Linked DNA regions of Homo sapiens: region 1 is linked to region 2. Evidence: fine-mapped expression QTL. A gene starts in region 2. The other region holds a variant in brackets. All regions are shown on one strand. Distances are between the middles of the regions.

Region 1 (4,511 bases), 59 kb before region 2:
GCAGGTCTCACCCCATTGAACCCTCAGGGGCTTCGTGAAGTGGGTCCTGTTCATCCTCCTTTTACAGATGAGAAAGTGGAGGCCCAGCCTTGCTCTGGGAACCAAACACACAACTGACATTCAGATATAGACACTGAGAAGCCAGGATTGTATTCTGTTGGGGACGGTGGCTTTAGGGCCCTGACTGACAGGGCTCCATTTTTTCTCAAGGGGGTGCTTTGTTTGGTCATGTGCAGAGGCCTGCAATGGATCAGGACAGAAGATTTAATCTTTTATAAATGCAAAAGTGGCTTCCCCGCCCTCTCGGGGGACACTAGTGGACGGTGGCTGCGTGGTGCCACCTGTCTGACACCCCTGTGGTGTTGGCCCCTTCGCTCCCTGCTGCTTCTCCCGGTGCCGCTGCCTGTGCCGTCCTAACCAGTGGGGCTGGCTGATACCTGTAGTCGGGCACTGGGCCGAGGGTTGCAAGTTCCACCTGGATTTTTCCCTCCACAGTGCCAAGATTTGCTCTCCCAGACGTCATCCCCACTGAGTCAGAATGATTCCTGCACTGGGCGGTCGGCAGATCTGCTGCTGCCTCCAGGGGACACAGGCAGGAGGCGCCATGACAGTCTCCATGACCCTGCGGCACCCTCCCGAGCGGAGCGCTTCAGGATCCAGGTGGGGCAGGGGGAGTGGAGGTGCAGCCAGGCTCTACCTCATTCCTCTGGGTGGGACAGGGCCTCCCAGAACCACCTGCTGCCCCATACTTGAGCACAGTTGGGCTGGCACCAGAGTCAGGAGGCACTAGCCTGCTCTGCTCGCCCACACCCAGCCGCCTTGCGTAAGGCCCACCCAGCACCCATGGTGCCGAGCTCGGGCCGCACAACTCACTTTAGCTGTCAGCTGCTGGGGCCACTCCTGTGTCCTGTACTTCCCTCCCTCAGGGGTTCAGATCCCCTGTCCGCTCTTTCTCTGTGGCCTCTTGCGTCCTGCACTGCCTCCCCTGCTGGCCCCAGAGCCCTCTGTGCTCTCCTGGCCTCTGAGCTCCTTCTTGGCCCCTTCCTTCTCTGCTTACCCACGTTGTTCCCCAGAACTGCTTTCCCTGCAGCTTCACCTCGGCAGCATTCTCTTCCTCCTGCTCAGCAAAACCACAGCCAGACCAGATTCTGTTCTTCCTGTTCTCTGCCTGCAGCCCCGTGGGGGGCACCGCTGGAGACGCCTCCTCCGCTCCCGGTGCCCGCTCCAGCCCTGGCGGAGGTGGGCCCGTCTCACACTCCTGGCTCACCTTCTCAGGGCATCATTTCCAGGGGTCCTGGATTTACTCAGGACCTGCCTGTCCTGCCTCCCTCCTTGTACGGACCTTGGCTTTGTCCTTTGTCCTCTTCTTGGCCTGTCAGACACAGGATTAGCAGGTGTCCCTCAGGCCCCTCCGGGTGAACTTCAGCTTCACCCCTGCTTGTTTCTCTGACTCTCACTTCTCACTTCTGGCTCTGGGGACTTCCTTTCCCTTTCTACAAGCACAGCCATGAGTTTTAAAGGATTTTTAAACACATTGTCCAGCAATTCCGGTTGCTGTTGAGAGGCTCTGCGCACTGCTGGGAAGGGAGGGCCTCCGTGTTTCCTGAATCTTTTCCTTCCTCTCCATTCCTTCCACCAGTGCCCTGGACAGGGACCCATGATCTCTCACCTGGACCGCAGTGGCCTCCCCCACCCCCTAGCTGCTGCCAGAAGGATCCATTTGGAATGCATTCCTAGGCACGGGCGGGTGCTTCACTGGCTTCCCCGCTGTGAAGATCCCTCCCAGGCCCTGGGCTGGGTCCCAAGGCGTCCCAGGGTCTCGTGGGCGCTGTTCTCTCCTTTGGTCTTTGTGCAGAACAGCCTGGCAGCCTGTGCCCCCCACACAGACTCTGCCATCTCCTCTCTGGTCATTTCCCATCTCCTTTGAGACTCATCTCGGACACCACAGAGACTGTCCTTCCCAAGCCCTGCTCTCAGGCGGTTTGGGTCCCTGCTGTGCCTCTGCTGTGGCTAGCACCTCCCCTCTCCCGCAGTGTGTTTGAATTGCTGGTCTGCCCCCTGCCATCTCCACTCGACCCTTGAACTTGCTAAGGTCACTGGCATCTTCACCCTTGAGTGTGCTGGAGCCAGGCAGCAAGCCCATGTGCTCCTCTGGAGCAAGGAGCAGGTGTCCAATTGCGTGTGTTTCGCAGGAGGAGCACCGTGAGGCCAAGCTGACCCTGCGGCCCCC[G/A]AGCCTGGCAGCCCCCTACGCCCCAGTGCAGAGTTGGCAACACCAGCCAGAGAAACTCATCTTCGAGTCCTGTGGTTATGAAGCCAATGTGAGTTGCTCCCACCCTCCCAGCAGGGCCGGCCTCCCTGCTCCTTCTCGGCCAGGCACCTGCGGCCAAGTCCCAGCAGGGACTCCACAAAGCCAGGCCCAGGGCTTTTGAGCTGTTCTCCACTCTCAGCCACTCTTGACAGCTAAGGCGAAGGGGTGGAGGCCTCTGGATCCTTTAGCTAGGGAGTTGAATGGAGGGTCTCTCCAGCTGGGGCAGGAGAGGGGGTGTTGTTATTGAGAGGGGTAACTACTTGATTGTGGGACAGTCCCAAATTGGTTGGGTCACCCCTGCATGGAAACGCAGGATTTCCTAAGCCTGGCCACTGCTCGCCCCCACAGTATCTGGGCTCCATGCTGATCAAAGATCTGCGAGGGACAGAATCCACGCAAGACGCCTGTGCCAAGATGCGGGTAGGGTGCCTGTGTGGGCTGGAGGGCGCTGTGGGACTGGCCAGCAGAAGGCAGCAATGGGGGCAGTAGCTGCAGTTGCCTGGGCCCTGCTGCACTATGTAAGGATGGGAAGGAAGCTGGGACCTGTGGAAGCCCAGGAGGCTTAGCCCTGAGAAGGGGCACTGACAGGGCCACCCCTTGTTTCCTGTAGAAATCTACGGAGCACATGAAGAAGATCCCCACCATCATCCTGTCCATCACATACAAAGGTGTCAAGTTCATCGATGCCTCCAACAAGGTGTGCTGCTTACAGGGACTCTTGGTGGGAGTGGGACCCACATCCCCGTCAGACCCACAGGGCTCCAGGGCAAGCAACCCGGCTGCCCTGTCTCATCTCTTATCTCCCTAGAGGGTCCCCAGTCCTCTTATTACTTCCCACTTTGCTAAGAGGCGTGTCTCTCATCTGCTGGCCTGGGTGCCTGCTGTCAGCCCCGTCCCCGCCCTAGTGATCACTGCTGTTAGCCTCGCCACCTGGGCTCCACTGGCCGCACACCTGCTCACAGGTGTGATTCCCTCCGTGAGCAAAGGACTTTCTCTGTGTGCCACCGTGTGGGATCCCACCTTCCTGACACCCTTCCCACTTTGCCCCCACCCTGGAAGGTGGGAGGGGCTGGGGAGAGCTTGTGGTTGGGTGTGAACATTTTACTGCCTTAGTTGTTGTGGTAAGGGGTGGAGACCCCAAACCAAAATCGGGGACCCCCACCCCCACCAATAAACAAAATGAGAAGATGAAGGGGGGTTTGCTTGATGCTCTAGGCTGGGACAGAGAACAGTGACAATGGTAACAGGCTGGGGCAGGGGGTGCCAGAGGCATGCCTGAGCCTGAGAATTCCAGAACACGGCTTTCCCCAGCAGAACGTCATTGCAGAGCACGAGATCCGGAACATTTCCTGTGCGGCCCAGGACCCGGAGGACCTCTGTACCTTTGCCTACATCACCAAGGACCTGCAGACCAGCCACCACTATTGCCATGTGTTCAGCACCGTGGATGTGGTGGGTGGGGTCCTGGGGCCGGGTGGGGCAGGCTTGGGTTGCAGCCCTGAGGCGTCCAGCCCCATTGCAGGGCACAGATGCGGCGCTGTCCTGGCCCCTGGCCAGTGCCTGGCAAATGTTTGGTTCATGAATGGAGCCCAGCAGCACTCAGGCCGGTCCCCTTTCACAGTGATGAGACTGACGCGCAGAGGGAACAGGGACTGGCCCAGGGCACTAGGGACAGGAGGTTCCAGCTTTTTTTTTTTTTTTTTAAGAGATGGAGTCTCACTATGTTGCCCAGGCTTGCCTTGCACTCCTGGGTTCAGGCAAGTTACCCACCTCAGCCTCCCACGTAACTGGATAATAGGCGTGAGCCACCGCCCCTGACTTTCCAGCTTTTTGGCGAGTGTTTTCTTAGGTCAGGCAAGGCCTTTGTTTCCCCCGGCTCCCTGCCCTAGGTCTCCAACCTCTGGCTGGGCCGCCTCCCAGAAATGCCCTCTACTTCCCTCTTAGGGGCAGTGGTGCCCTCTTTGGCAGATTTTCTTCCCTCAAATTCCTGCTGAGGCTCGGCTCTGGATGCCACTGGGCCGAGGAGAGTTCATTCTCACACAGCTGCCCACAGGGAGCAGACCAGAACTGACAGCCCACAGGCGGGGGTTCCCTCTAACCTGCAACAAAGCATGAGAGTGGCCCCAGGCTGCTTCCTCACCCCGGGAGGAAGTCAGAGGGGTCCAGGTCTCTGCCGCCCTCAGGGATAGCAGCTGCTTCCAGA
Region 2 (4,000 bases):
AAATATGTAAACAGACTCACTGCTAATTCACTAATGCTAAATGAGAGCTAAGAGAAAATCTTCAGAAGGGGATTGAACTACAGCAGCTTATTGAGGGACGGAGGGAAATATACACAGAAACACTTTCCAACTACAACAAATCAAAGTTCATAGCCTGCCTTGATAAGACTTCTGTTGCTCAAAAGTTACACAGCACTAAGCAATTCCAAAACAGCTCTAAAATTCAGGAATGAGGAGAGCTCAAAGAGAAATTAGAGATAAAATTTAACCGAAATAGATTTTAAAAATCCAGATCCCAAGGACAAAGACATTTTCAAGTAATATAACAACCAAGTCAACCTAATACACAAAATTTCAAATTTTTTTAAAAAGGAATTTGATTATTCATTTTACTGAGAGTTGTTTTATATATGGACTCATTTAAATAGACACCTCAAAAACTTAAATTGTGTGTACAAAAAAACGGATTTTTCATCCTACCTCAGGTTCATAGCTGTTGGAAATGACCCCAATATGCCTTTTGGTGCCATTCAGTTAACCAGCAGCGACCTCATGTGGCCACAAGAAAAACCAATCTAATTCAGCCGCAAAGCCTCAATCTAATTTTTCGCATTTCAATAGTCAAGAATTTTATCTTGAGTTGTTGCACACGGACAGCTCCTCAGTTTGATGACTAGTTACGTTCTCTGGAGATTAAGAGAAATACAGCATGAGTCCCAGTGAGACTGGACCTACCACGAAGCGCGGAGAAGACCTTGTGCCCCAACAAGAACACAAAAGAACACCCACTACAGAACCGAGCTAGAGACTGGGCCCAGGACACTACTATTTCTTGAGTTAGCAAAGCGCTGAGAAAACCCAATTCCCGTCTGGGATCATTTGGGTTCTTTAAAATCAATCCCAGATCTATCTGCCAATCCCCCCTACATATTCAAAATACAATACAAAGGAGGGCTTTGAACCGACTCAGTCTCAAATCTTGTCAGATTCAAGTAATCACGCTTGGGTCACTTCTTTCTCTAGAACCAAAAACTCTTTGAAGACCTCTGCCCTCGGGCCTGTAAGTAAAGGCGGGTGGGGGAGAAACGGAGAAAGACAAACGAGAGAGGGATAGTGAAGAGAGAAAACTTGGGGGATGGGGGGGCCTGCGGACCCCCCACACTAAGCACCCCCTAGGGGGCCACAGGGACTGCCGAGCTGGACCTACAGGGAGGGGGGTCCTCGGAGCCGCTCTTGTCTTCCTGGGGGGGTCCTGAGGTTTCGGGCTTACAGGACCTGCCCTCTGAGTCGCCAGGATATTTCGGGGGCACACTCTCCTTGACGTCTGGCATTTTGCTGATGGTATCTGGGTGAGGGAGAAAGGCGTGTTGTTGGCGTCGGGGAAGGGGCCTCCCCAATTGCCAAGGGGGTCCCTGGGGGCGGCGGGAAGGGGGGTAGCGGCCTCAGGGTCTTGGGGGTGCTGAGGGGCAGAAAGGGGCAAAGGAGCGTGGAGGAGCGGAAGTCGAGAGTGGGACAGAAGTGGAGCGCTGGGCGGCAACGAGGAAACTAAAGCCACAGAAGCCCGGCGCAGGGCGGGAAGCGTGGGAAGGCCCCTTCCTTCGCGGCGAGGTGCCCCCCTCGCCCGAAACGCCGGCCCAGGCCCGCCTCCGGCTCCCAGGCCGTCACCTCCTCCTCCCCCGCCGCGGGTCATCCACTGGCGTCCGCTCGGTGGGCCTCGCGGCCTGGCGGCCTGGAGCGTACCACCGCGGCGGAGCGGCGGGTTGGGGCGTCGCACGGTGAGAAAGGCCGGGGCCTGAGAACAAACCGCCGCGGTCGCCGGGGCAACGGGACGGGGCACGTGCCCCCCCCGCCAGAGCCGGAAGCGGCAGGCTCGTGCGTCCCTCCTGAGCTCGAAGCCAACCAGGCCTCGAGCGGCTCGCTGCGGCCGGTTCATGCCGGTCAGCTCCCGCCCCTCGAGAAGGATGGCCTGGAACTGCTGAGACGAGGCCAGAGCATGCATGGGGCTTTTCTTCAGGCTGTTTGGACAGCCGAGAAGCCGAGCCACACCCAGGAGGGTTGTTTCACAGCGTGTGCCGCAGGGGCGCAGGGGCCGCGCTCTTTCCTCACATGTGGGAGAAGCGGAGGAGCCGCCAGGGCTGGGGCCAGGCTCTGCCCACTGGGGTTCCGCCCGTTGTCGCCCTCCGCCTCCTGGGCTCTAGCCCTTGCCTTTCTTGACTCTAAGTCTACTCTGTCGCCCTTGCAGTGATGTGAAGACCTGGAGTGCCCCTGCCTGAGAAAATAGAAAGGAAGCGTTTCCTCTTCACCTGCTCCCGTCTCTCTTTATTACTGTGTCATGACTTCTTACCATAAAAGTGTACAGTAACAAAACAAAACAAAAGATGAAAGTATTATGGTAAGAATCCGGGCGCGGTGGCTGACACCTGAGTCCAGCAGATCTCCTGTCAGGAGTTCGAGTCCAGCCTGGCCAACATGGTGAAACCCCGACTCTACTAAAAATACAAAAATTAGCCGGGCGTGGTGGCGGGCGCCTGCATTCCCAGCTATTCGGGAGGCTGAGGCAGAGAATTGCTTGAATCCGGGAGGCCGTGGTTGCAGTGAGCTGAGATTGCGCCACTGCACTCCAGCCTGGGCAACAGAGCGAGACTCTGTCTCAAAAAAACAAAACAAGGCCAGGCGCGGTGGCTCGAGCCTGTCATCCCAGGGCTTTGGGAAGCCGAGGCGGGTGGATCACCTGAGGTCAGGAGTTTGAGACCAGCCTGACCAACATGGAGAAACCCCGTCTCTACTAAAAATACAAAATTAGCTGGGCGTGGTGGCTCATGCCTGTAATCCCAGCTACTCAGGAGGCTGCAGCAGGAGAACCGCTTAAACCTGGGAGGCAGAGGTTGCGGTGAGCCGAGATCACGCCATTGCACTCCGGACTGGGCAACAAGAGCAAAACTCCGTCTCAAAAAAAAAAAAACAAAAACAACCTTTGCCTTGTTAGTGTGGAGTGTGGATGTTTCTTGCACAACTCTTGGGTTTGGAGGGGGAAATTATAAAGACACCCAAAAGCATTTGTGCTTAAAAAAAGTCCATTCCACCTTGAGGCCCAGGCATATACCAGGGGAGTGGCCTAGCCAAGTTACTGTTTATCCAGAGCATCTCAGACTCATCCATACCAAACCTACCCCTTCCTCCTCCTCGCCCTCTCCTGCTATTTCCCTCAGGGATGCCAACTGTGAAGCAGGCCAGCCTTCACCCTAAAACCACCAGAAGTGGGAGGAAGTTGCATGATGACTTCAGCAAAGAGTTCAATGAAATATGATGCTTCCTTATTACATAGGGAGATATTTAGGCTGGGTTATTGATTTCTCTTTAAAAATGCAAATCAGGAATTCCATTTGGCATTTTTACTTCTGGGAAAGTTTCCAGAATAACACCAGTTCGTTTCCCCCACAAAAATTGCATTGCTGTAAAACTCCCTACTGATGTCTGAAATTCCTCTAACAATTCTTTCATATATGTTAAATTGTCTGTTTAAATATTCTCTTAATATTCGAATTGTCTGGGAGGGTCAGTGGGAAGAAATAGCAGTCCAGGAGCACATGGTAGTGTGAGAGGGGGGTGGGGGAGGGTGGAGAGTGGGGAGGGGACCGAAGCCAGAACAGGAGGAAAAGGAGGTAGCAGAGAAAGACAAAATTAGTTTTCCCAGGGTCAGCCCAGGTACAGCATTTCATGATCTTTATCATTAATAGTCATCAGAACCAACCAAGCAAAAGTTAGAGGTTGAGGGGAGTAGAAAGATCAAGTAAGAGATATGCACTTCTTCCCTTTGGGGTCTTAGTTAATAACTGATTTCTCTGTAATGATTTACAGAATGCTTTTACATCGCAGATCTATATGCTCTGCACACAATCTCATTCAGTAGGCAAGGCAGGTGTTATACTGGACTGTCTGAAAGGTGAACAAGCTGGGGATCAAAGAGGTTTCAGAGAGTAACCAAAAGTCACACAGTAAG

The links. PIP is the estimated chance that this variant, and not a neighbour inherited with it, causes the effect. A credible set is the group of variants that fine-mapping cannot tell apart.
Region 1: its variant is the best candidate, but not a certain one, in a credible set for the expression of TCP11 in lung (TOPMed, PIP 0.85).

Annotation. Positions count from the first base shown.
Region 1 is chr6:35,080,499-35,085,009 of GRCh38, forward strand. It overlaps ANKS1A (ankyrin repeat and sterile alpha motif domain containing 1A), which reads left to right. Exons shown (of 24, transcript NM_015245.3): 17 at 496-660; 18 at 2,193-2,318; 19 at 2,657-2,728; 20 at 2,919-3,005; 21 at 3,623-3,760. Among named protein-coding and RNA genes, the nearest start is that of TCP11, 59 kb to the right of the region's middle. RefSeq lists an enhancer at 750-1,421. The variant G/A (reference allele first, on the strand shown) is at 2,231.
Region 2 is chr6:35,139,540-35,143,539 of GRCh38, forward strand. It overlaps TCP11 (t-complex 11), which reads right to left and starts at 1,800. Exons shown (of 10, transcript NM_001370687.1): 1 at 1,666-1,800; 2 at 1,208-1,345. The coding sequence starts at 1,331.